Linked DNA regions of Homo sapiens: region 2 is linked to region 1. The links come from fine-mapping of genetic effects on gene expression. A gene starts in region 1. The other region holds a variant in brackets. All regions are shown on one strand. Distances are from middle to middle.

Region 1 (10,663 bases):
AGTTCAAGGACACAGCTCAGCCACACTGCAGCCTCAGCTCTCGGGACACTACAGATCCCTCACAGTCACTCGACAAACACACATGGGTCGTGCCCAGTGCTCACTGGAGACTCTGCCCTCCCCAGGTCACAGTCTGATCACTTCAAAGGAGAACTGGGTGAGTACTAGGGTAGGGGTCCTGAAAAGGGTCGTGGAGTAGGAATTCTGGGGTCCTGAGCCCTGCTCTCACACCAGCTCCAGACAGGGCACAGCCTGTGAGAGCAACTGAGGGGGCTCAGTGACGAGGGCTTGGGGTGTCTGCCCCATGGCAGCATTGACGGCATTGTGGGGACACTTGGAGGTGCCCAGTGGACCCCCACTGACGTGGGTGTAAAATCCTTAGGTAGGGTTGTGTGGTTTTTTTTGTTTTGTTTTGTTTTTGAGACAGGGTCTCGCTCTGTGGCCCAGGCTACGGTGCAGTAGTGCAATCATAGCTCACTGCAGCCTCGACCTCCAGGCCTCAAGCAATCCTCCTGCCTTGGCCTCACAAAGTGCTGGGATTACAGGCATGAGCCACTGTGCTCAGCCCAAGTAGAGATTTTTAAAAGTGCTACTGGCAGCTTTTAAAAAGTAGAACATAGAGCCAGGCGTGGTGGCTCATGCCTGTAATCCCAGCACTTTGGGAGGCTGAGGCGGGCGGATCACCTGAGGTCAGGAGTTCGAGACCAGCCTGGCCAACATGGTGAAAACCCATGTCTACTAAAAGTACAAAAAATTAGCTGGGCATGGTGGTGGGCACCTGTAATACCAGCTACTTGGGAGGCTGAGGCAGGAGAATTGCTTGAACCCAGGAGGCGGAGGTTGCAGTGAGCCGAGATCACGCCACTGCACTACAGCCTGGGCGACAAGAGCGAGACTCCATCTCAAAAAAAAAAAAAAAAAAAAAAAAAAGATCATAAGAAGGAGACAGCCAGGCATGGTGACTCACGCCTGTAATCCTAGCTACTGGGGAGTCTGAGGCAGGAGGACCCCTTGAGCCCAGGGACTGGAGGCTACGGTGAGCAGTGATCATGCTACTGCACTCCAGCCTGGGTGACAGAGTAAGACCCCTACTCAAAAAAAAAAAAAAAAAAAAAAGGAAGTTTATGCCTGAGACACAGGGATGATTCCTTATTAGAAAGCCACGTTGGCCAGGGCACCGTGGCTCACACCTTGTAATGCCAGCACTGTGGGAGGCTGAGGTGGGAGGACCACTTGAGCTCAGGAGTTTAAGGCCAGTCTGGGCAACATGGTAAAACCCTGTCTCTACAAAAAATACTACCAGCTACTTGGGAGGCTGAGACAGGAGAATGGCTTGAGCCCAGGAGTTCGAGGATGCAGTGAGCTGTGATCACACCACTACACTCCTGCCTGGGTGACAGAGCCAGACCCTGTCTCAAACAACAACAAAAGCCAGCTACATTAATGCCTCAGAAAACAAAATCACAGATGCTGAAATGACAAATTGTACTGTTTAGCCTCCGTTACCCAAAGTCTCCTAATTTAAAAAGAAAGGAAATAGATGGACATGTTCCTCACTTCACTGAAAAATCTCAAGCCAAAGGGAGCATTGACTTTAATGGGCAAATACTCAAAACTTCTGCCATCAAAATGAGGAATAGGCCAGGTGCGGTGGCTAAAGCCACCTGTAACCCCAGCACTTTGGGAGGCCAAGATAGGCAGATCACTTGAGCTCAGGAGTTCGACACCGGCCTGACCAATATGGTGAAACCTGGTCTCTACAAAAATACAAAAATTAGCCAGGCATGGTGGCACGCACCTGTAATCCCAGCTACTCAGAAGGCTGAGGCAGGAGAATCACTTGAACTCAGGAGGCAGAAGTTGCAGTGAGCCAAGATCGCACCACTACACTCCACCCTGGGTAACAGAATGAGACTCCATCTGAAAAAACAAAAACAAAAAAACGGGGGGAATGGAATGGGGAAGGATGCTTACAGTCGCCCTGCCTCCATAATGTAACATAGTCTTGAGGTGGTAGTCAGCACAACTAGACGAAAAAAAGAGGCTGGGTGCGGTGGCTCACGCCTGTAATCCCAGCACTTTGGGAGGCCGAGGCGGGTGGATCTAGAGGTCAGGAGGTCGAGACCATCCTGGCTAACACGGTGAAACCCCGTCTCTACTAAAAATACAAAAAAAAAATTAGCCGGGCATGGTAGCGGGCACCTGTAGTCCCAGCTACTCGGGAGGCTGAGGCAGGAGAACGGCGTGAACCCAGGAGGCAGAGCTTGCAGTGAGCCAAGATAGCGCCACTGCAGTCCAGCCTGGGCAAAAGAGCGAGACTTCGTCTCAAAAAAAAAAAAAAAGAAAAAAAAAGAAAAAAAGAAATGGGGCCAAATATGGTGGTGCACGCCTGTGGTCCCAGATACTTCAAAGGCTGAGGCAGGAGGATTGCTTGAGGCCAGAAGATAGAGACTAGCCTGGGCAACAATAGCAAGACCCTGTCAATAGAATAAATAAAATGCCAGGCATGGTGGCTCATGTCTTTAGTCTCAACTACTTGGGAGGCTGAAGCAGGAGGACTGCTTGAGCCTAGGAGTTTAAGACCTGACTGGGCAACATAGCGAGACCCCATCTCTACCAATAAAAATTTAAAAATTATCCAGGTGTAGGCCACCTGGTTGGCTCACCAGGCCACACTGGCCAAGATGGTAGAACCCTGTCTCTACTAAAAATACAAAAATTAGCCAGGCATGGTGGCGGGCACCTGTAATCCCAGCTACTCAAGAGGCTGAGCCAGGAGAATTGCTTGGCCCAGGAGGCGGAGGTAGCAGTGAACCGAGATCACACCACTGCACTCCAGCCTGGGAGACAGAGCAAGACTCCGTCTAAAAAAAAAAAATTATCCAGGTGTGGTGGTGCGTGCCTATAGTACCAATTATTCAGGAGGCTGAGGCAAATGATCACTTGAGCCCAGGAGCCCAAGTGATCATGCTGCACTGAGCTATGATCGTGCCACTGCACTCCAGACTGTGCAACACGGTGAGACCCCATCTCTAAAACAAACAACAAGAAAAAAAGAAATGAGATTGAAAAATAAGAGAAGAAAAATAAGAAATGAGAAGGCAAAATTATTTGCAGATGATATGACCGTATATATGATAGGCCCAAGCGATGTGACTAAAAATATTTCAATAAAAGAATTCCTTAAGCTAGCAAGAGACTTATAGATATTTAAAAATTCATTTCTTGTATACTATATATGTATATAGCTTTAAAATGTATTAAAGCATCCCATTTATAGCAGCAATAAAAAAAGATACACTGCCTGCTTAAACGAATTTTGTTGACATTTGAAGAACTTTTTTTGGAGTCGCCCAGGCTGGAGTGGTACAGCAGCACAATCGTGGCTCACTGCAACCTCCGCCTCCCGGTTTCAAGTGATCTCCTGCCTCAGCCTCCTGAGTAGCTGGGATTACAGGTGTGTGCTACCATGCCTGGCTAATTTTTGTATTTTTAGTAGAGACGGGGTTTCACCATGCTGGCCAGGCTGGTCTTGAACTCCTGACCTCAAGTGGTCCACCCACCTCGGCCTCCCAGAGTGCTGGGATTACAGGCATAAGCCACCTTGCCCGGCTGACATTTGAAGAACTTCTAAAAATCAACAAGAAAAAACATTTGCAGGATATAACAGGAAAAGAATTACGAAATAGAGAAATAGTCTCTAAATTTTTTCACTCATACACTAGGCAATATTTCCTTTTTTTTGAGACAGTCTCTCAACTGTCATCCAGGCTGGAGTGCACTGGCGCAATCTTGGCTCACTGCAACCTCTGCCTCCCGGGTTCAAGCGATTCTCCTGCCTCAGCCTCCCAAGTAGCTGGGATTACAGGCGCCCGCCGTCACACCTGGCTAATTTTTTATATTTTTAGTAGAGACGGGGTTTCACTATGTTGGCCAGGCTGGTCTCGAACTCCTGACCTTGTGATCCGCCCGCCTCGGCCTCTCAAAGTGTTAGGATTACAGGCGTGAGCCACCGCGCCTAGCCTTAGTAGGCAATATTTTCAACTTTGAAAGTACAGGTGAGGGGCCAGCGCTGTGGCTCACGCCTGTAATCCCAGCACGCTGGGAGGCCGAGGCAGGCGGATCACGAGGTCAGGAGATCGAGACCATCCTGGCTAACACGGTGAAACCTCGTCTCTACTAAAAAATAGAAAAAATTAGCCGGGCGTGGTGGTGGGCGCCTGTAGTCCCAGCTACTCAGGAGGCTGAGGCAGGAGAATGGTTTGAACCCTGGAGGCGGAGCTTGCAGTGAGCCGAGATCGCGCCACTGTACTCCAGCCTAGGAGACAGAGCGAGACTCCGTCTCAAAAAAAAAAAAAAAAGAAAAGAAAGTACAGGTGAGGGAATCCGTTATCATGCCAGTGCCGCCAAGGTTGTGGGAAAACCCCTGTATCTCTTGGAGCATAAATGGTACAATCTCACTAAGGAGTAACTTGGCAGTATGTTCCAAATGTAAAATACACACATCCCAGACAGGAGGCTGAGGCAGGAGGATCGCTTGAGTCCAGGAGTTGGAAAACAGCCTGGACCCATAAGGACATTTCCTCTCAAAAAAAAAAAAAAAAAAAAAAAAAAAAAATGCCAAGCACGATTATGGGATCACACCTGTAATCCCAGCACTGTGGGAGGCTGAGGCGGGTGGATTGCTGGAACTCGGGAGTTCAAGACCAGCCTGAGCAACGCGGCGAGATCCCGTCTCTACAAAAAACACAAAAATTAGGGAGGCGTTGTGTCACCTGTGGTTCCAGCTATTTGGGAGGCTGAGGTGGAAGGATCAATTGAGGCTAGGAAGGAGGTCGAGGCCACAGTGAGCCATGATCATGCCCTCCAGCCTGGGCAACACAGCCTCTCTCTCTCTCTCTCTCTATATATATATATATAAAAGGCCGATTTGGGGCACACTGTCTATAAGTTAGCTCTGCTCTGCCAGGAACAGTACTGTTCAGTAAAGATGCCATCTAACACCACCTGCTCGCCCTTAAAAGAAATAAAAGAAAAAGAAAGAAAGGGGCGGGTGCGGTGGCTCACGCCTGTAACCCAGCACTTTGGGAGGCCGAGGCAAGCGGATTGCTTGAGTCCCGGAAGCTGTTCAAGACCAGCCTGGCTAAAATGACGAAACTCCGGGCGGGCGCGGTGGCTCACACCTGTAATCCCAGCACTTTGGGAGGCCGAGGCGGACGGATCACTTGACGTCAGAAGTTTGAGACCAGCCTGGCCAATGTGGCGAAACCCCGTCTCTACTAAAAATACAAACAACAACAACAGCAAAAAATTAGCTGGGCGTGGAAGTGTGCGCATGTAGTCCCAGCTACTCGGGAGCCGGAGGCAGGAGAACCGCTTGAACCCGGGAGGCGGAGGCTGCAGTGAGCCGAGATCACGCCACTGCATTCCAGCCTGGGCAAGTGAGACTCTTGTTAAAAAATTTTTTTCATATAATTGCTGAAAAAAATAAATAAGTTTAAATTTGCAAAACCATCCCGTTTTTTCAGACAAACTTGAGGGTCGAGGTCGGAGTCGACCATGTTTCGAAGGTGTGTGGCCACGCCCAGCCAGGTCAGCCCCGCCCCCAGGCCGTCAGGCCCAGCCCCCTTTCGTCAGACCCCGCCCCCAGCCCTGCTGAGCGACCCCGCCAGTCGGGTCCATCCTGCAGTAAATGCACAACCCGGACGGAAGTGCCTCTCCGACAGCAGATCCAGGCTCGGAGCTCCAGACGCTGGGACAGGTGACCCGGGGCGGTAGCGAGCCGGACGGCCTTGCAGGTGGGGCGGAGGTCCCGAGGAGCTCCTCGGGCGCGGTCGTCTGTGGGCTCTGCGCGCCCTGGAGGTCGAGGCTCCGGCAGCGCGGGGGTTAACTCGAGCCGGTCCCAGGCTGCGCGGCGACGTCAGAGTTCATTTACATAGCGCTTATTTGGGTTGCGCAGTCGTGGGCGGGGTCTGGACGTCGCTGCGGACCAATCGCGTGCGTCTATGCAAATAGCGGTCGTTCTGGGGAACTCTGCTCCCGCGGGGTGAGAGTTGGCCGCTCTTCGGCCGAGCTGCCCGCGCGTCCTTTCTCCGTGCGCGTCGTCAGGCGTGTCCTCTCCGCGTGTCCACCCACAGGCCGCCCGCAGACCACCCCCGCCGCGCGCGGGACACGACGCCCCCCGCAGGACCCGCCCATCAGCCCGGAAACCCCTGAGCTGCTTCTCCCGGAGGCCGATGCCCACCCGGGAGCCCCCAAAGACTCGCGGCTCCCGGGGGCACCTGCATACTCACCCGCCTGGGCCTGGGCCCCCGGTGAGCCTGACCGGGAGGGGGTCCCCAGGCCGGGCCTCTAGGCAAAAGATTTAGCCCCTCCAGTTTGAGGGACTCCGGTTTCCCGACACCCCGATTTAACTCCAGACCACGATTCCTGTGGCAGCTGCAGGGACTGGCGCCCCGAGGCCTCAAAACCAGCGCCCCCCGCCCTCCGTGCCAGCCCCAGCCGGGACCCCACAAGGCAAAGACCAAGAAGATTGTGTTTGAGGATGAGTTGCTCTCCCAGGCCCTCCTGGGCGCCAAGAAGCCTATTGGAGCCATCCCTAAGGGGCATAAGCCTAGGCCCCACCCAGTGCCCGACTATGAGCTGTGAGTGTCCCCCATGTGATTCTTCATGCCTGGGATCAGGAGAGGGGCACTGAGGCTGGGGCTTTGATAGTTGAATAAGAGTTTACCAAAGAGTAGAAAGGAAAGGATCCCTTGCTGATCAGTAGTGGGATTGTCCCTGTGAATAAGCCACTGCACTCCAGCCTGGGCAACACAGTGAGATCCCGTCTCCGAAAATAAATAAATAAATAGGCGAGGCGCGGTGGCTCATGCCTGTAATCCCAGCACTTTGGGAGGCTGAGGCAGGCGGATCACCTGAGGTCAGGAGTTCGAGACCAGCCCGGCCAACATTGTGAAACCCCGTCTCTACTAAAAACACAAAAATTAGCTGGATATAGTGGCGCATGCCTGTAATCCCAGCTACTGAAGAGGCTGAGGTGGGAGAATTGCTTGAACCCGGGAGGTGGAGGTTGCAGTGAGCTGAGATCGCTACACTGCACTCCAGCCTGGACAACAGAGCAAGACTCTATCTCAAAAAATAATAATAAATAAATTAAAAGAGGGAGAGAAAAGGAACGTTTCTAGTAGGGGCCCAGCATGGACAAAGAAAAGCAAATTACACTGACTGGGGGAAAGAGTGGGGTTCTTTACACTCACACTCTGACCCTCTTCAACCTGGTAGTAAGTACCCGCCAGTGAGCAGTGAGAGGGAACGGAGCCGCTATGTCGCAGTGTTCCAGGACCAGTACGGAGAGTTCTTGGAGCTCCAGCACGAGGTGGGGTGTGCACAGGCAAAGCTCAGGCAGCTGGAGGCCCTGCTGAGCTCCCTGCCCCCACCCCAAAGCCAGGTCAGCACTAGGGAGAAAGCCCTGCCCCGCAGCCCTTCTGAGTGGCCCGACCCAAGCCTCTGGGACACCCACTGGGTCCAGATTTCCAGGACTCTTTCTCCTCTCGGTTGGCTGGGCGCCGTGACACATGGCTAAGGTCAGCCCTTGAAGTCCCCACTAGATGGGCATTTAGTCTGTCTGAGCCTCAGTTTCTTCATCCCTTCTTGAATTCAACTCTCCCTAAACCCCCTTTCTACTCCTCCCCTTGCAGAAGGAGGCCCAAGTTGCAGCCCGGGTTTGGAGGGAGTTTGAGATGAAGCGAATGGTGAGTCTTGCATCCCACAGCTTGGTCTTGCACCCCTGAGACTTCTGTGAGGCTGGGGTGCCTGTGCCCAGTTTCTTTTTTTTTTCTTTCTTTTGAGACAGAATCTCGCTCTGTCACCCAGGCGGGAGTGCAGTGGTATGATCTCAGCTCACTGCAACCTCAGCGTCCCGGGTTCAAGCGGTTCTCCTGCCTCAGCTGGGATCACAGGCGCCCACCACCGTGCCTGGCAAATTTTTGTATTTGTAGTAGAGATGGGGTTTCACCATGTTGGCCAGGCTGGTCTCGAACTCCTGACCTCAAGTGATCCGCCCACCTCGGCCTCCCAGACTGCTGGGATTACAGGCATGAGCCACCTTGCCCGGCTCACCCGGTCGCCTGTGCCCAGTTTCAAGGAGAGAAAATTGAGGCTCGGAGAATGAAAGGCAGAGAGTTAAGCAGCTTGAAGGCCACAGGGCAGACTGCTGCAAAGACTTCCGGGTCTCGCCCTGCCTAGGATCCTGGCTTCCTGGACAAGCAGGCTCGCTGCCACTACCTGAAGGGTAAACTGAGGCATCTCAAGACTCAGATCCAGAAATTCGATGACCAAGGAGACAGCGAGGGCTCCGTGTACTTCTAAGTGCCCCTGCAGATGGGCAGAGGGATGCATGGGGATGCAGGTCCCTTGCATTTCTTGGTATCTCTCAGCTTTTCCTCTTGCAGCTCCCCCTACCAGGGGTCGCTTTCTCCTGGATTGCAAATGCCTCTTCAGTTTGGACTCAGCTCTGACAGCCCCTCCTCCAGGAAGGCCTTCCAGGACTTCCTCCTCTGGGTCCTCTAGCTCTGACCCTACAGGGACTCCAGATCTCAACCTGTTCCCTGGAAGTAGGGCCTGCTCTCCATCCCAGTGAAATAAACATGTATTAGACACCTACTGAGTATAATTACTTAACACTTCTGATTTCACTCAGTTGTCACACACACAAAAAGTTGTTTTTTGTTTTTGTTTTTGTTTGAGACTGTGTCTCACTCTGTCGCCCAGGCTGGAGTGCAGTGGCACGATCTTGGCTCACTGCAACCTCCGCCTCCCCGGTTCAAGTGATTCTCCTGCCTCAGCCTCCCAAGTAGCTGGGATTACAGACACCTGCCACCATGCCCAACTAATTTTCATATTTTTAGTAGAGACGGGGTTTCACCATGTTGGCCAGGCTGGACTGGAACTCCTGACCTCAAGTGATCCGCCCACCTCAGCCTCCAAAAGTGCTGGGGTTACAGGCATGAGCCACCACGTCCAGCTGGATTCTTCACTCTCTGTGTCTCCCTGGGCACTTCAGGACAGCAACTGACCCCAGTGTGTGGGCACGGTCCATATGCATGGCCTAGGGGGAGGCTCTTCCAGTGTCTGACCCATCCCAGGCCCTAGCTGTGATGGGTGGGGCACAGGTGGGGCCAGTCTCCCTGTGGGAGCCATGTAACAGCAGACCAGAAGCTGTCCTCTGAGTTTCAGTCTCCCAAGGGAGCCACAGGGGCAAGAAGCAACCAGGAAGACCAACTACATGCAGGGGAGACAGCGTCAACCACTGGGCCACCACGATTGTCCTCAAGAAGGCCCTAGTCTGGGGAAGATAGCCCTGAGTCCAGTAAAAGAAGGCTGCACAGCAGAGTCTTAATAGCCAGGGAGGCTCAAGATCTCTTCCCGCAGGAAGGGCCATGTGGGTAGGGTTTTGTAGGAAAAGTAGGAGTTCAGCAGTCAGGCCTTGGACAGACATCCAGATCTCTGGCCTGGGGCCAAACAGCAGGACAGACACCATGGTCTCACTCAACCCTCAGATGTCCTGTGCATTGGATAAATGAGACCTTGCTGTCCAGTTTGACTGGAGTAGACATGGACCCACTCACTCACAGGACACCATGGAGAGACCCTGACCTAATGCAAAACCCAGTGCAGCCTTCAACGAGAACCTGGTGTCCTCTCCATCCCGCCCCTGCCTCAGTTCCCTTCTGGGAACGTGCCCACAAGAAACCCTCACTGACTCCACAGGAGGGGCCTAATCTCTCGTCTTCCAAGGCTTTCTTCAAGATGGACATGGGGAGACTAGGGAGCATTTTGGCAAACTGGGGCTGCTTAAGAGCTGAGCACTGGCCCAGCAGGCAGCGTGACAGACTTGACTTCTTCCCTTGCTGTTTTCAGGAGGGCATCTTTCTTTTTTTTTTTTTTTTCAGACAGTCTTCCTCTGTTGCCCAGAGTGGAGTGTAGTGGTGCGATCTCAGCTCACTGCAACCTCCGCCTTCCAGGTTCAAGTGATTCTCGTGCCTGAGTCTCCCGAGTAGCTGGGATTACAGGCTCCTGCCACCACGCCTGGCTACAGAAGGACATCAGTGAGAGGTGCCACCCCCACCACCATTCGGGCCCTTTCTCTCTGCCCTACAGCTCTGGTGCTGAATTCCACAGGTGCCTTTCCCACCACAGAGCTGTGCCACACACTCCCGAGGCTGGGACGGGAGAGTCCCTGGTACCCCACATGATTCCGTATCAACCCAGTGAAGCCCACATTTCAAAGTCTTGGCCTTGTAGGTGCCTGACTCCCAAACGTCAATCTCTGAAACAGATTTTTAGTTCCATGTGAGAAAAAAAACTGAAGTCAGATTGACTCAGGCACAAAAGGGGGGAGACTGAGTTCACAGAACTTAAAACACCCAAGGGTTTCAGGTATGGCTTGATCTGGGGCTCCAAAGGCATCTTGGGAAATTGATCTTCCATCCTTGGCTCTGCTTTAATTAGATTCTCCCAGTTCCAAATCCCACCGTGCAATCTCACTGGCTAGTTTGGCATCCCAGGGCCTCCATAAACCAGTTGCTGTGGCCCAGGGAATGGTGGTCTCTGATTGGCTCGCCTTACATCATGTGACAGGACTGGCCCCAGAGGTTTCTCC
Region 2 (10,663 bases), 21 kb after region 1:
ATTCTTCAAATGTCCCCAGAACCTTCTCCCCTTGGCCCCTGCCCTTGGACTCCCCTGGTCTCTTGCCACCAGGAGCTGGGGGCTCTCCAAGGCCTGGGCCTGGAGCAACTACCCCTGGGGTTCCAGCTGGACACCCAGGGGACACACAGAGACAGTCACAGAGTAGAACCACCACTTAAGGGAATTAAACAGATGCATCTCTGCAGTGGCTCACGCCTGTAATCCCAGCACTTTGGGAGGCGGGGGAGGGTGGATCACCTGAGGTCAGTTCAAGACCAGCCTGGCCAACATGGTGAAACCCCGTCTCTACTAAAAATACAAAAATGAGCTGGGCGTGGTGGCGCATGCCTGTAATCCCAGCTACTTGGCAGGCTGAGGAAGGAGAATCGCTTGAACTGGGGAGGTGGAGGTTGCAGTGAGCCAAGATTGACCCACTGCATTCCAGCCAGGGTGACAGAGTGAGACTCTGTCTCAAAAAAAAAGAAAAAAAAAAAGGCTGGGTGCAGTGGCTCATGCCTGTAATCCCAGCACTTTGGGAGGCCGAGGCGGGCGGATCACCTGAGGTTGGGAGTTTGAGACCAGCCTGAACAACATAGAGAAAACCTGTCTCTACTAAAAATACAAAATTAGCCGGGCATGGTGGCGCATGCCTGTAATCCCAGCTATTTGGGAGGCTGAGGCAGGAGAACCGCTTGAACCCGGGAGGCAGAGGTTGCAGTGAGTTGAGATCACGCCATCGCACTCCAGCCTGGGCAACAAGAGTGAAACTCCGTCTCAAAAACAAAACAAAACAAAACAAAACAGATGAATCTCAGCTGCAGATACCCAGCCCTGCCCCTCAGGTGGCGACTGCCCCACTGAGCCTCGGTTTCCTCATCTGAAAATGGGAGGTCAGATATTGCCCTATCATATGGGATGGACTGGGTCAGAGGGGTTCACGGGGGACAGTGCCAAGACCCAGAGCCCAGCCGGAGAACCCAACTTAGGAAAGCTGAGGATCTGCGCCCACTCCCCCGTACCCCCCCTCCACCACTGCCTGGGTCCTGCAGCACCAGCCACTGAGCCCCTGGGAAGAGGCCCCACTAGGGCAGAGGGAGCTCAGGCAGAACCAGAACAAAGCCCAGCGGCTGGGTGGTGGGAGGGTCCAGGGCAGCCGGGTGGAAACGGCCTGGCCTGGGGCGGCCCTGCAGGCAGGCAGAGGCCCAGCTCAGGGGCCCCTGACCTCAGGGGAGGCCCTGAACCTTCAGTCTCAACTTCCCCAGCTGTGGAATTGGGACAGATCCATCCCTCCAAGGAGGGAAACAGTTAAGTTCTTCCTGTTATCCCACCTAAAGAGTGCAAGCTTTTTTGCCCAACCCCATGGCCCAACTCAGCTTCCTCCCTGGGCTTCTGGCCTCCAGTCCAATTTGATCAGAGCCCTCTCCTGCTCACACACCCTCTATGGCTCCCCATTACCCTCAGCCAGCATTTCAGGCCCACCTAGCTCTGACTTCTCCCATGGCTGCACAGTCCCCCTCTTACAGCACAGCTCCCCCAGTCTGCCACTAAGTGTTTTGTCTGGACCACATTCTGGCATGTCCCTGTGGCCTTTCTTCCACCTGCCAACTCCATGCTTCAAGGCTCATGTCCCCTAGCCTCCTCCAGGCAGCCCTCTCTGACCTCCAGGCAGAGCCTCTGCTCTCTCCCTGGGACCCCAGATCCCACAGACTTGGGGCATCTGTCTCACTGTGTCTCCTCCAGACTGGGGGCTTCTCAGGAGCTAGACTTGGAGCTGGGGTCTCTCTGGAGGGGCTGGCATCAAACTACCCAGGCTGGGCCCCAGCGAGACCCTGCTCAATCCATTTGAAGCTCAGAATGGAATGGTGATTTCACCAGGTCACACAACTGACACAGCACAAACCTGTCAGCTCCAAGCAAGGCCCCCCCCACCCAAAATTGCTGCTCCCTGACACCACCCTCAGGAAGCTCCTGGGACCCCAAAACTGCCTGAGCCCCCCTCCCTTACCCTCCCTAAAGATATGACCAGAGAGCAGGCGGTTTTCCAGCAGCAAGAATGAGGCCAAAGTCTAGTGGCCCACTTTGTGCTGGAGGAGGGAGCAAGGCAGCTCTGCCACACATGGCCACACCAGGCCAGCCCTGACCCGGGACCTGGGGCCAAACTCCACCCTCGGGTACCTGGGGCCCTATTTGGTGGCCTCAGCCAACAAGCCTTCCATCAGCCGTTCTCCCTGGGGCCACTCCGATCCGAACTCAGCGGTCCCCACCCTAGCCCCACAGTTCCCCCACAGTGCCCCCAACTCGGGCAGCGTCCCTCCATGTCCAACGCAAAGCAGGCACCAGGACCTCTCTCTGGGCCTTTGGGCCTCTGTTTTGGGCAGCTGGGAACTGAGACCGTCTAGACGGGCTCCACAGAGACCCTGCATGTTCCTGGGGTGCAGAGTAGGGGCTTATAAACGGACAGATCGGATGCTCGCCCGGGAACGGTGAGAAAAGAACTCCCGGGCTGGACAACCCCGATCGCTTTCCCTGGGGACCTTCCGCCAGAACAGCTAGCAAGGCCACGCCCTGCCAGAGAGGTCTCCGACCTGGGACAGCCCAAGGCTCCTGCTCGGAAACGTTTCACTCCCTGCCCGTCTCAGAGACACCCAAAGTTTGAGGGATTTTTCCAGGAGCCCCAGGTCTGCACCCACCCCTGGGGGAGAGGGACGTTTCAGTCAATTCCGGTGGCCCTGCCGGCCTTCCAGTGGCGATTTCCGGTGACCCAAGGCCCAGAGTGAGCCCAGAGGGGTTCCCTGAGATGGGCAAGCCCAGCTCCCACCCCCACCCCCACCGCTGGGCCCCTCATGCGAAGAAGGCCGCCCCGTGCCACCCCAGCCTCCCTCCGTCTGCCGCCTCCGTAGCCACAGCGACTTTGGAAGTGATATTTGACCCCAAGGGCGCGCCGTATCGATCCGCGCGGCCGCAGACAATGGCCCCTGGACGCTGCGAGCTCCACGGTCCAAGTTCCACGTTCGATTCCCTCGAGGGCATCCCGCGCGCCGGGATCCCCGAGAACGGGTGCCCTGGGGTTGGGTTACCACCCCTGACAGCACCCCTACCCCCACCCCAGCGCGGAGATGACCCCTCCCCAGAGAAAAAGCGGAGGGAAGGAGAAGCAAGTAACTGGGGCAAAAGCCTCCAGGGACCACCTGATGGGGGGGGAACCTGCAACGATGTAGCGCCGACTGTATACACAATCCCAGCCATGGAATGCGGGAGGAGGGTGCTGTGCCCCTATCTCAGAGGGGGCAGTGGAGGCCCAGGGAAGGTCAGCGCCAGGCCCAAGGTGACCGAGCAGGTCAGAGGCCTGCCCCAGGTCGGGGCGGGGTGCACGGCGGCGGCGCGCGGATGGGGGGCTCACCGGCAGGTGTAGCTGAGGTTGCGGCGGATGCTTCGCTTGAAAAAGCTCTTGCAGCCCTCGCAGGTGAAGACACCGTAATGCTTGCCGCTCGACTTGTCCCCGCACACCACGCAGTCCACCTGCAGCCCCGGCCGCTCCTCGTCGCCCGGCTCGGCGTCGCTGGCGGCACCGGGGGGCGAGGCCGAGTCGTCCTCGGCCGCGCGCGGGTAGCCGCCCGCCTTGTCCACGCCGTTCGTGTCGCCGCCGGGGCCGCCCCAGCCGCCGGTCACCATGGCCATAGCCCCAGGGCAGCGGGGCCGGGGCGCCCCCACCGCGCTCTTCCCTCCGGGCACCCCTCTCGGCCCGGGGGACCCTACGCGGCGCGCATTCGGCCCCGGCGCGCGGGGGGCACGGGCTGCACCCCCCAAAAAAGTTTTGCAGCAACTTCCTGCGGCCGGTCCTCGCGCCCGGGCGGAACTGGTCGGGCCGGTTCCAGGCCAACTTTCCCACGCGTGCGCGGGGCCGGGCCCGGGGCCGGGAGGGGCACGCTAGAGGCGCGGGCCGGGGGCCCAGAGGACTCGCGTCCCGCCGCCCTGGGGCCCCGGCGGGGGCGCGCGGGCCATGGCCCGGCCCGAGCCGCGCAGGGGGCGTCCTCTGGCCTGGCCGCCGCTCGCCCGGGGGCTGCGGCCAACTCAGCGGGCCGCCATCCGAGCGCGGGAGGCCGGGGGGAAAGTTTGGCCGCAAGTTGCGCGGCCGCCCGTGGCGGGGGGGGAGGGGCGGCGGGTGCGCGCCGGGGCTGATCGCCGCGCCCCCTGGGTCCCCCGGCGCCCGCGGCTGCCGCTCCGGGCCTGCAGGGCCGCTGGGCCGGCGCCTCTGGAGCTGCCGCCCCCGCTGCGGCCGCTCCTGCCTGGCCTGGGCCTGCGCCTGGGCCCAAGCCTCGCTCTCGCCGCCGCCACCGCCACCGACCCCGCGCGCCGGCCTCGCGCTGCGGCCGGTTTGACACACAGCGTTCCATTCGCGGGGCGGGCGGGGGGCGGGGGCGGGGGCAGGGGCGCGCGCCGCGGGCTGGGGGCGGGCGCTCGTTGCCCCGGCGACGGCCGCCCTTATAAGGGCATGGGTGGCCGCGCGCGGCGCCGGGCGAACGGGCCGGCGGGAGGGACGGGGGCCGAGCGCTGGGCCGCGGGGCCTGACCCTCCCCCGCCTCCCTCTGCCCCTCCCCCCGCACCCCCGCCCTCGCCCTCGCCCAGCTCGGGCCTTAACCCCTGCCGGGCCGCGGCGGGAGCCTCAGCCGCGCCTGCCCTCTGCCCTTCCTTGAGCCTCGCCAAGATGTCTCTCCAAGGCCCTCCCCTCCACCTCTGGCCTTGGACGTTGGGTCGCTCGATCACCCTCGAGGCGCCCCTCGGAACCTCTCCCCACCCCACAGTTCCTGGCAAAGCAATGATGGGGGGCCAGTGGCACCCGGGGGGGGGGTACGCCCCTGCGCAAGACACACGCGCGCGCGAGACAGACAGACACACACACACACACACACACACACACACACACACACACCCTAGATTGTGTTTGCTTCCTCTTCCAGAAAGTCGCCGCGTCTGACCCCCACCCCACCCTTTCTCTGCTCGGGTTAACACCTGGTGCCCGGAATCTCCAGGGGGAAGGGATGTTGTGGTCTGAGACCGGCTGGCCGGGGCCGCGAGGTCAGGGGGCCCCTCTGCAGAATTTCTGGCCTCCGGGGGCAGGGCGCCCACCCGCCCCGCGCGGCTGGAGGCGACAGGCATGCCCTGTCTGGGGGCCTGCCCCTTTTTCCCTTTTAATTTCCTTTTCTTTCTGTGCTTTGCAGAAAGGGCTTGGCCTGGCGGCCGGCTGGACTGCAGATGTCTCTTCCAGGCGCCCTGGAGCCTCGCAGCTGCCGCCACCTCCAACTCACCCCATCCCCCAGTACCGGGGCTGGGGCCCGCCCGACCAGCATTTATTAAGCACCCTTTGTATGCGAGGCCCGGGCTGGCGAGCCTCTGGCTCTGGGCAGGTTAACCTTTAACCGGCTGGACAAGCCCTTCCAGGAGTGACCTTTCACCTCGGAGTCTTGCAGCCCCAGCCACCCAGACTGTGGTCCCACCCCGCCCTGAGCCCAGAGCTGGACACCAGAGCATGCAGCTGGGCCTCTGAGAGCTCTGGCCAGGACAGTGCCTTCTGCGCACCCCCTCCTCTGCCTCCCAGAGCCCTGATGAGACTTGAAGAATTGCCCTCCCTGGAGTAGGGGGAAAGATTCTTAGAGATCTTACAACACTTAAAAAGAAACTGAGGTTCTGGGAGAGCCAGGCACACCCAGCCCTGGGCCTCTCAACCTGCTCCAGGGACGTTCTGGCTGCCTGGGAGGTGGAGGAGGAGGCGTTAGTAAACAC[G/A]AAAAGCAGGAAGGACTAGGATTAGACATGAGCAAGGACTTCCCGAGGTCTAGAGTCGGGTTCTGCCCACAGCCTGATGTAATCCCTGCTGGGAGAGAGGAAGGCGTGGGTGGGCAGAGACGACCCTTTGGTTCTGAGGCTGCATGGGAATGTGACTGGTAATTTGGGATGAGGGCAGGGATCCTAGGCCCCTTGCCTGGACCTGCTAGGATCTTTGGTGGGGAGCATTGGGGTGGAGGTCTCAGAAGGGATTGAAAAGAGATTTAGATGAGAGACAGGCGCTGTGGCTCACGCCTGTAATCCCAACACTTTGGGAGGCCAAGTCAGGAGGATCTCTTGAGACCAGGAGTTCAAGACCAGCCGGGGCAATAAAGTGAGACCCGTCTTGAGCCCAGGTGTTCAAGGCTGCAGTGGGTTATAATCACGTCACGTCACTCCACTCCAGCGTGAGCAAGACCCTGTCTCAAAAAAAAAAAAAAAAAGAAGAGGGAGAGAAGACTCAAGGAATCTTGAGGGGATTGTGAAGGGGAGGGAGCAAAGAACTAGGTTTGGGGGAGACAAGTCTTGCGAGGCAGCTGAGAGCTGGGTGGGAGATGGGGGAAGAAAGACCATCGCAGATCCCAGAAACTCCAGTAGTTCCAGTCCCAAAGGCTGCCCCACCCCCTTCCAGTAGCCTGGCCACCCCTGTGCCCCCTGGGGCCCGCCTGGGGGTGGATCAAGGCTCTACCCCGCCTCCCTGACCCCTGCCCGCGGCCCTGCAGTAACATTTGACCTTGCGGCGGCCGCAAACCAGGGACAAAGGGGCCTAGGCCCATCTGCTGAGGGGGCACCCGTGGGAATGGCCAGATCCTGCTGGGGCAGCCTGGGAACCTGTCTCCGTCCTCCCACATGTGACCTTGGCTCCCTTTGCCCCTCCACAGGCAACCTGGTGGGACCAGGAACTCAGGTCTTAGACTCTGGGGCTCGGCAGGGTACAGGGAAGAAATTCAGCTTCTCTGCCCCACCCCAACACGAGCAAGGTGGTCTGCCTCCATTTCCCTGCTTTCTTCAAAGTTGGCCCAAGTCCAGGGACAGCGTGTGGGTCGGAAGGTGACTAGCCCCAGCCCTCGCTGGAGGGGACTGTGCTCGCCACCATACTTCTTGTTCTGTTTCTGGGGTCAGGTTGACTGGATTCAAGTCCAGGCCGCTGACTGGCGCTGACCTCAGGCTGACGTGGTCCTGCCCTGGGAGAGGCGGTGAACACACCTGCACAGGTGAGGCCTGGAGCACCTGCCCCCAAGGCTGGGAATGAAAGTCTTTCTAATCCCTGTCTCGGGTTTCAGCTGCCACCCTGAAGGGGGACAGCTGGCCACTAATCCAAGCTTGGCTGGGTCGTTCCAAGCTCCCCTTTCCCAGACTCAGCCAGTCCTGGTGTGGAGGGGCAGGGAGATGTGACTTATGCAAATGACATGCTAATTCATTGCCTGCTATTAACCTGACACGTCCCACAGCTCCTGGGCCCCCAGGAGAAAGCTGGAACTGGCCACCATTGGCATTCATTCTGAGTTTCTCTTGAAGTACAACGCCCCCTGAGTCCCAGACTATTACCTTTGCTATGCCTGTCCCCCACCCAGAAACCCTTTACCTTATTTTATTTATTTATTTTTGAGACAGACTCTCCTATTTTGCCTAGGCTGGTCTTAAACCCCTGGGCTCAAGCAGTCCTCCTCCCTCGGCCTCCTGAGATACTGGGATTACAGGCAAGCTCGACCACATGGAGTCCAGAAACCCTTGACCTTAGCTTTGAGTTAGTAGCAACTCGTCATCCACACCCTGAATCTGAACCATTCCAGCTTCAGTCTCCCTCCTTTTTGTTTTGTTTTGTGTTTTATTTATTTATTTAGAGACAGAGTTTTGCTCTTATTGCCCGGGCACGATCTTGTTGTTGGCGCGATCTCGGTTCACTGCAACCCCCGCCTCTCAGGTTCAAGCAATTATCCTGCCTCAGTCTCCCGAGTAGCCGGGATTACAGGCATGTGCCACAACACCCAGCCAATTTTTGTATTTTTAGTAGAGACGGGGGTTTCACCATGTTGGCCAAGCTGGTCTCAAGCTCCTGACCTCAGGTGATCCTCCCCGCCTCAGCCTCCCAAAGTGCTGGGATTACAGGCATGAGTCACCACGCCTGGCCTGTTTTTTTTTTTGAGACAAGGTCTTACTCTGTGACCCAGACTGGAGTGCAGTGGCGTGATCTCAGCTCACTGCAACCTCCACTTCCCAAGCTCAAGTTACCCTCCCACTTTAGCCTCCTAAATATCTTTATAGGCACATGCCACCACGCCTGGCTAATTTTTGTATTTTTTTGTAGAAATGGGGTTTTGCCATGTTGCCCAGGCTGGTCTTGAACTCCTGGGCTCAAGTGATCTACCCACCTTGGCCTCCCAAAATGCTGGGATTACAGATGTGCACCACTGAGCCCGGCCCCCTTCAGGAAAATCTGCCAGCCAAACCCAGCATCTCCCTGGGAAGGGGCTGCCAGGAGAAGCTCTGTCCAGTCCCCATGAATCCCTCCCTGGGCTTCGGGAGACAGGCCAGTTGGAACTTCAGCTGTGGCTATGCAACCTCACGGACCCCCGAAATGCGTCAGTCCCAGGGACCTGGTCCCATAGCCCAGGTTGCTTCTGGCCTGACCCCACTGATATGAAGTTCACATTCCACTTGGTGCCAGGCCAAAGACACCTGAGTCTTTCTTCATTGCCTGGCCACACCCCATCAGGCCCTGGACACCCATGTGCACCAGCTTCCCTCACGCCAAATGTGCCCCAACATGCCAAATCATGCAACATGACATGATGTCACTCCAGGACAGTTTATGACATGCCACAGCTGTCTGGCATGTCCAGACATGGCTGGGTAAGGGGCCTACAGAAAGGTGTCCCCAAGCTGGGGAGGCGGGAGGGGAGGCCTGGGCTTCCCCAGGGCCCTTGCAGTGGCTTCGAGCACCGCCACCTCCTCGGCCTGCTGAGCCTCCATGAGTGCCATCTGCTGCTCCAACTTCCGGCGTTGCTCTTCCTGCTTCCGGTGGGCTCCTCGGAAGGCCAGGACCAGGGCGCTGGAAGGGGTGGGTGGCTGGGTCAGGAAACAGCCCCCGAGTCCACCCAAGGCAAGGGCCGTGTACTCCCACTCCCAGAATGGGGGCTCTTTCACATTGGGTCTCCAAGGGTCCCAGCTAGCTGGTCTTTTGTTGTTGTTGTTGTTGTTGTTTGAGACAGAATTTCGCGCTTGTCACCCAGGCTGGAGTGCAATGGTAAGATCTCCCCTCACTACAACCTCTGCCTCGAGGGTTCAAGTGATTCTCCTGCCTTAGCCTCCCAAGTAGCTGGGATTACAGGCGCCCACCACCACGCCCAGCTAATTTTTTTGTATTTTTTAATAGAGACAGGGTTTGACCATGTTGCCCAGACTGGTCTTGAACTCCTGACCTCAGGTGATCCGCCTGCCTCAGCCTCCCAAAGTGCTGGGATTACAGGCGTGAGCCACCATGCCCAGCCTGTTTTTTCTTGTTGTTGTTTTTTGAGATGGGGTTTCGCTCTTGTTGCCCAGGCTGGAGTGCAATGGCACAATCTCGGCTCACTGCAACCTCTGCCTCCCGGGTTCAAGCGATTCTCCTGCCTCAGCCTACCGAGTAGCTGGGATCACAGGCATGCGCCACCACGCCTGGCTAATTTTGTATTTTTAGTAGAGATGGGGTTTCTCCATGTTGGTCAGGCTGGTCTCGAACTCCCGACCTCAGGTGATCTGCCCACCTTGGCCTCCCAAAGTGCTGGGATTTCAGGCGTGAGCCACTGCGCCTGGCCCAGCCTGTTGTTTTTTTTTTTTTTTTTTTAGACAGAGTCTTGCTCTGTCACCCAAGCTGGAGTGCAGTGGTGTGATCTCTGCTCACCACAACCTCCACCTCCTGGGTTTAAGCAATTCTCCTGTCTCTCAAGTAGCTGGAATTACAGGCACGTGCAAAGACGCCTAGCTAATTTTTGTATTTTTAGTAGAGATGGGGTTTCACCACGTTGGCCAGGCTGGTCTCAAACTCCTGACCTCAAGTGATCTGCTGGCCTCAGCCTCCCAACATGCTGGGATTACAGGTGTGAGCCACCACACCTGACCGTTACTGCCTATCTTGGGGCAGTGGGGAATGCTAAGGCCCAGAGACAGCCAGGGATACTTCTGATATCCTGGTGGGGGATGGTGCCAGGGGGATTGGGGGGATGCAGAACAGTCCTACCTGTGGGCTTTGCATAAATCCCTGTTCAGCTCGGCACTCTGAGACCGTCTGGCTCGCCCCTTCTGAGCCACCTGTTCCAGCTCCCTGCGCAGAGACTGCAGCTGCTCCTGCAGGTCCAGTGTCCTGTTGCGAAGGAGAAGAGAGGGGGCTCACAGCCCCAGCCGATCCTGTTTCCCAGGTCTCCTCCTACCCACCTGCCCACAGTATTGTCATGTAAACACACCTGTACACCGGGGTACACCTTAGCTTCTACTGCAGACGACACCCCCGGGGGCTCTCACATAGGCTGCCTGCCCACCCCCCGCACAGCCCAGGACCCAGGCACACACCTGGTGAGCGATGCTGCCAGTTCCTGGGCTAACTTCTCTGGGTCCCAGGCTCTGCCCACCTGGCCACCATCAATGCCACTGGTGCCACCAGGGACAGCAGGAAGGCCCTAAGGGAGGCAGAAGACAAGAAAGTGACATTAACCTAGGCCAAGTCCGTGCTTGGCCCACACTGGACATTGGAGCTGCCCAGACAGTGGCAGCTGCTGTGCTCTCAGAGACCCACATCTGGTTCGATATACCAATAAGAGCAAAATTATACTCTGATAAGGGAAATATCCTATTTAATTAAAAAAAA

What was found. PIP is the estimated chance that this variant, and not a neighbour inherited with it, causes the effect.
Region 2: its variant is fine-mapped to the expression of OCEL1 in sun-exposed skin (GTEx, PIP 0.98).

What each region holds. Positions count from the first base shown.
Region 1 is chr19:17,220,556-17,231,218 of GRCh38, forward strand. OCEL1 (occludin/ELL domain containing 1) reads left to right here and starts at 5,671. Exons shown (of 6, transcript NM_024578.3): 1 at 5,671-5,761; 2 at 6,138-6,314; 3 at 6,439-6,644; 4 at 7,285-7,450; 5 at 7,701-7,754; 6 at 8,248-8,664. The coding sequence starts at 5,693. The coding sequence ends at 8,370. RefSeq lists silencers at 5,558-5,647, 5,878-5,997, 6,018-6,067 and enhancers at 5,591-6,265, 6,266-6,939.
Region 2 is chr19:17,241,543-17,252,205 of GRCh38, forward strand. NR2F6 (nuclear receptor subfamily 2 group F member 6) reads right to left here and starts at 4,377. Exons shown (of 4, transcript NM_005234.4): 1 at 3,401-4,377. The coding sequence starts at 3,678. It overlaps USHBP1 (USH1 protein network component harmonin binding protein 1), which reads right to left. Exons shown (of 13, transcript NM_031941.4): 11 at 10,369-10,475; 12 at 10,040-10,162; 13 at 7,629-8,872. The coding sequence ends at 8,683. RefSeq lists silencers at 3,728-3,797, 3,808-3,967, 4,368-4,617, 5,018-5,097 and enhancers at 4,361-5,310, 6,260-7,209, 7,210-8,158. The variant G/A (reference allele first, on the strand shown) is at 5,782.